Linked DNA regions of Homo sapiens: region 1 is linked to region 2. A link means that fine-mapping ties the variant in region 2 to the plasma level of a protein whose gene starts in the linked region. Region 2 holds a variant in brackets. A gene starts in the other region. All regions are shown on one strand. Distances are from middle to middle.

Evidence for each region. PIP is the chance, under the fine-mapping model, that this variant and not a neighbour inherited with it causes the effect. The UK Biobank Pharma Proteomics Project read protein levels with antibody pairs (Olink). The fine-mapping took linkage between variants from a reference panel, not from the people measured, so its PIPs are less certain.
Region 1: ERBB4 starts here. The variant in region 2 is fine-mapped to the plasma level of the ERBB4 protein (UK Biobank, PIP 0.96).

Annotation. Positions count from the first base shown.
Region 1 is chr2:212,537,502-212,540,409 of GRCh38, forward strand. It overlaps ERBB4 (erb-b2 receptor tyrosine kinase 4), which reads right to left and starts at 1,301. Exons shown (of 28, transcript NM_005235.3): 1 at 948-1,301. The coding sequence starts at 1,029. RefSeq lists an enhancer at 1-332.
Region 2 is chr2:9,520,156-9,523,067 of GRCh38, forward strand. ADAM17 (ADAM metallopeptidase domain 17) reads right to left here. Exons shown (of 19, transcript NM_003183.6): 8 at 1,048-1,161. Among named protein-coding and RNA genes, the nearest start is that of ADAM17, 34 kb to the right of the region's middle. The variant A/G (reference allele first, on the strand shown) is at 1,166.

The DNA.
Region 1 (2,908 bases), 200 Mb after region 2:
CCTTTGCCTGCCCAGGTACCTGGGGCTCGAGCTCTCCAGCAAGCAGTGGCCGCGCACCCATCGCCGCTGCCGCTTTCGCCTCGGGTGGATCCAGTGACCCGCAGGCTCGGCAGCCTGGCCGGGCAGTAAACAGACAAGTTTGAAGGACTCCGGCCAATAGCAAGTTGAACTACAGGAAGAACTCTTCCCGGAGCCAAACACGGCAACCGACGGGAAGGCCGGGCTTCTGGCTCAAGTGTGCCAAGCCTTTTTTTTTTTTTTTAAGAGGTCAGGCAGGCGAGTAAGCGCCCCTCAAGTCAATGGGGAGAGGGCTCCGGGAAGCCGGCGGAAGAGGCCCAGAACTCCGGGCCCCGGACCGAGGCGCGCCCGCCTGCTGCACTCCGGCTGCCCGGGCTGGGCGCGAGTTGCGTCTGACGCCACAAGGCTCGGGCGACTGGGGGCGCAGCGGTCGCCAGCAGCACACACAGGTGCAAAGCCCGATTTTCTGAGCGCCGCTCTCCACCGCCCTTCGGGCTCGGCTCGGGAGAGGCCCAGCCAGCACCGCCCCAGGACCGCGGCCCCGGCGGTGCGGGTTCTGCCCTCGGGGACCCGACAGGGACAGAAGAGTCTCCTCTGACTGGGGATTTGGGTCTCCCATGTCCCGAACAACAGGCGCCACCAGAAGGGATCCCGCTTAGGCTCCCAAACAAAACGCTCGGGAAAGAAAAGCAGGGGGTTAAGGAGAGAAAAGAGGGACTCAGAGTGATTTTTCACGATAAATAAAGCAAACGCACACATACAGGGTAAGTTTCAAATGGAAAGAGGGGTGACCGAAAGCCCAGGGAAGAGGCCCCGGTCAAGCGGTCCCTCCACGCCTCCCGGGATGGGTGAAGAGGGCAGGGGAGCCACTCGAGGCAGCCCCGCCGGCGGCTGCAGGTTCGGCGACCGGAGTGCCAGAAGGAACCCACCTGACTGAGAATCGCTGGGCTGGACGGTCCCCGCCGCCACGAGAAGGCTCACCCAGACCCAAAGTCCTGTCGCCGGCTTCATTTTTTGGAAGTCTCAGATCCCGTGCTGACAATTACATGTCCAAATGGCATATCCCCCTTTCGGGCACGCGGAGGAGATCCCCCAGCCGGGCGCGCGTGGGGGTGCGAGGGGGGCGGGCGCGGCGCGCGCGGTGTGGCGACTCCCAGGGCGGGCGACCGAGTCCGCGCCCGCGGGTCCAGGGCCGGGGCCCGAGGAGGGGGCGAGTGTGAGCGCGTGTGTGCGCGTGTGGGAGTGTGCTCGGTGTGTGCGCTTGGCGCTCTGGGCCGGACTGTGCAGCTATTTCCCCGCGTGAGCCTTCGCTTGCTCGCTCCCTCCTCACTTTCTCTCTCTCTCACTGGTTGGTCAACAATAAAAAAGGAAGGGGGGCGAAAGGTTTCCAAAAAAAGTTGATTGCAAAGAGGCGGTAGGTTTCCGGCCTCTCCCCGCAGCCGGGCTATGTTCTGCTCCTTCTTCAGTTTCCTTGCACCTCCAGTCCAAATCGGGAGGGGAGCGGGGCGGGGGGAGCTTCTCGCTTCTCCCCGGATCCCGTCCTTCTTTTTCCTCTCAGCTTTCCTCACACTTGTCCGGCGGCTGCGGTAATTAAAGCTCCGAGCGTCATTTCCAGCGCTCCGCGGTCTCCAGCTGCAGCCCACAGAGAAATTAATAAGACTCCAGAAAAAAAAAAAAAAAAGGTGCGGGGGGCGGTGGGAATAAAACAACCCTCCACGCAACCAGGCCGGCTCTGCTCAGCCGCGCAAACCCCGCCCATGCTCTGACCCAACTAGCCACGCCCTTCCCCCCCCCTTCCAAAGGGAAATCTTATTGGCTCAGCCACTCCCCAAAATCCTGGGCCTCCGGAGTTGGGAAAACACCTGTCAGGGAAAGGGAGCCTCTTGGTGGGGGCAGGGGAAGCTGGATTTAAAGGGCTCACCGAAGCCATGCACTGAAGCACTCGTCTTCCCTCCCTGGCAGAGGCCTGGGACAGCTGGCCTGCTGAGTGGACGGACCATTGGAGGGCCGCTTACGGAAATTTTTTTTTTTTTTAAACAAGAAAGTCAGCATTTTCTCCGTTGCCCCACGGTGCTCATCTACAGACAAGACTTTCCCTAGAAATAAAAGTCAATGTTGCTTTCAGCAAAAAGCCTCCGCCCGCAGTACTCTGCCACTCATGGTCCACAATTAGAAAGTACTTTAAAAGTGTGTACAGCAAGTAACTGGTAGCCCCTGAGGATTAGGTAGTGGTAGGGGTATAATCACCGCCCCGCCTCCCGCCCCCAGTTATGCCATCTCTCCGATTACTCCCACATTTCTAAACTGACCAACATTGAGCCAAACTAAACTTTCACATTTATAAAGGCATATCCTTTGATTTTTAGATTTTATGTTTTTTTTTCACCTTTGGAGTTCATTCTTATTAAGCAGATTCTAGTCCAAAGCCACTGATTTGATCTTAAAGGGCTAGAAATTGTCCCCAGCCTGAAAGAATTTAAGGAGGCCACATCAGAACATAATTAACCTTAAATGATTCTGTTTATTCTACAGTAGACCCAGCTTTAGGCCCCTTCCTTGTCCTCACTCTGCACATTCATGGTCCCTAATCTGGAGGTCATTGCTAGTTACGAAAGTCTCTGACCTTTTCTGAATCTAAAATATTCTGGGACTGGGTCATTTCAATGTACATATCCCTTGCCTTTTACAGCTCTGAAACCGCACCCTGGCAAGGGCCAGAATCTGCTGGGGGTAGTTATTGGTTTGCTATTTGTACAGGCATTCTATGTATGAATCACTTTCCTTTTTTGGTTTTTCTAGAAGCAGCAAATATATAAATAAAAAGTATCAGGGGAGCTTAAAAATCAAACCACCCTGCCTTTCATTTGAGACCTTGATCTCCATTTCCCAC
Region 2 (2,912 bases):
CATGCAAACTATGGGATAAATAAGTGTTGTTCTAAGCTGCTCCACTTGTGATAATTAAAGCAACAACAAGAAACTAATAAACTTGCCAACACATTAAAAGATAAAAACTATCGCTTCATATAAAGTCATTCTACACCAAAGTAATAGCACACACAAACTCAAGACACTGGAATCACATGGCAGCACCCTGTTATACGGCAAGACTCCAAATGACATAAAATGATTAAGTTAGCCATCTTTAGATTAATCGCCAGAATAAAAACACAAAAATTTTAAATTCCTGTAGAGAACTTTCAGATCTCCAAGCTATATTTCTACTCTCCAATACATGTTCATAACCTGTTTGATAATTACTGCCCTAAAAGATAAATTGATAAGCTTCAGAGAGAGCTGAACTAAGTGTGCAGAACTAATGAAACAGTGTGCAAAAACTCTATATATTGGGTATCCATGTTATTTTCTAGAGAAGATCCACTGATTGTCTCATTAGATCCTCAAAGATATTAAGGTTAAGACGCACTGCTTTGGCCGGGCATGGTGGCTCACACTTGTAATCCCAGCACTTTGGGAGGCCGAGGCAGACGGATCATCTGAGGTCGGGAGTTCAAGACCAGCCTGACCAACATGGAGAAACCCTGTCTCTACTAAAAATACAAAAATTAGCCGGCCGTGGTGGTGCATGCCTATAATCCTAGCTACTTGGGAGGCTGAGGCAGGAGAATCTCTTGAACCTGGGAGATGGAGGTTGCGGTGAGCCAAGATCACGCCATTGCCCTCCAGCCAGGGCAACAAGAGTGAAACTCTGTCTCAAAAAAAAAAAAAAAAAAAAAAGGAAGCATTGCTTTATAGCGTTTTTCTTTTTCATAGAGTTTTTGTTATTTGTTGTCTATGCTGCTACATGGGATGGGGTTACTGCTGGATCAGCTGGAGGAGACTGCTTCTGGGTGTCCATCTTTTCTAACATGCTCCTTCATTAAAACACATACAATCCACATATCAGAAATGACAAAGTGGTGTTAGCACCATATCCAGGATTCTAAGACCTACCTCTAGCAACATCTTCACATCCCAAGCATCCTTTTCTTCATTTGGGTAACTTTTTGCCATGTTGTAGTGCTTTTCACCAGGTTTTACCTCTTGTGGAGACTTGAGAATGCGAATCTAT[A/G]CTTAAAGAGATCATATACTTAGAACACTTCCAAAATAAGTCAGAAGGCTCTGAATACTGCATTATTTTATCTGTTCAAAAAAAGAATCGTTCTAGAAAAAAAACATTTTAAAACCAAAATTCATAAATTCTTCAGTACCAATATTCAATGTTTGAAACAAACAGAGAAGCATATGGTATGGAAAACATATGTCAATGAATTATTTATAATATTATAAATGTACTCTTAAATTTTCATATCCTCCATGTTTATTTTGAAAAAATAAGAACTTGGGTTACAGGAGCCTAAAATATTTATTACGACTACAGTCGACAACTCAGGAAAGAATAATAAAATATACATCTCTTTGTGCATCAAAGGAATAAAAGGCTAAGAATAGAGTCTTCTCCTTATACAGGCATTTCAGACAAATTCATATTAAACCTGCAAAGAAGAAAAAAAAAAGTAACAAAGGCTCCCATTAGTAAGTGTGAGATAAAGAAGGAAACCATGCTCAGCTCAGAGTTTCTGTGAGTCTCTCTGCCTGCCTGCCTGCCTGCCTGCCTGCAGAGAAGGCCCATTCTGGTCTCCTCTGCCACTGTGTGGTAAGTTTACTGGGGTGGACTCTGCAGTTTTGATGGTGGCTGGTCAAGGTCAAATCTGGGATAGAACTACTTAGAAGCCCACCATGATACACATCTAAACCACACCCTCCAATCCATCCTTCATCAGATGTAAAGAAGTTAATGTTTTAATCTCCTATATTATTCCTGTTTCTTCGACTGGTTCCAAATGCCTAAAGCAAAAAGAAAATTTACAGGTTCCCTGAAACTCAAACATGATGCAGCTATTTATAATAAAACAAGTGAAGCAGCTTTACATGCATGAACATGAAGTACTCTCCAACATACTGTGAAATGAAAAAGCAAGGTGTAAAAGTGTACTGCATAGCACCGTTGTGTCAAATACAGACATATACATACACTATACCTGCATACGACATCTCTAGAAAGATACATATGAAACTAGTGACATGAATGTCTTTGGGGAAAGGAACTGGTTTGACAATAAACAGGCTGCAGAGACTTACTTTTCACTGGCTTTTGTACTGTGTACATGTTACCTATTCAAATAATAACTTAAAAAGAAAATGCGTAACAGTGAAAGAGAATGAAAAGGGAAAAATAATTCTCTTAGTTTTATACAAGTAATATCAAAGTTTAACATTTATAAACATGGTGAATGATTTTTAAAAATTTTTTCAACCTCTAAATTCTATACTATATAACTTATAAAAATATGGTTTACTACAAAAAGCTTGGAAAAAAATAGAGATAACAATTTATATAATTTACATATCAAAATGTCTCTCTGCCCAAAGCAATACCCTTTGTCAGAAGCCTTTTTAATTAGTCCTAGCAATTTGAAATAACTTTTAATATGAGCTATTATTAAGATGACATTAATATAACATTACTAGACACACTCTGTTAACAGATTACAAGAAATCAGAAGGAGATATCTGAGAGGAAAGAACCTAAAGGTTCTGTATATATAAATACAGCCTTGCAAAGGTACACAGTATTTTTTAGTAAATTTTCTGACTAAGGATTCAATGGTGCATGCCAGAGTTTTAACTAAAGACTTAAGCATAATCGGAGGGGGGAAGAAAACTACAGAGAATATAAAGGCCATGAATTCAAAGAAGGAACAAAGCACAGCAGCATAAAAGGCTTTCTACCTAAAGCGAGACTAAGGACAGAAAAC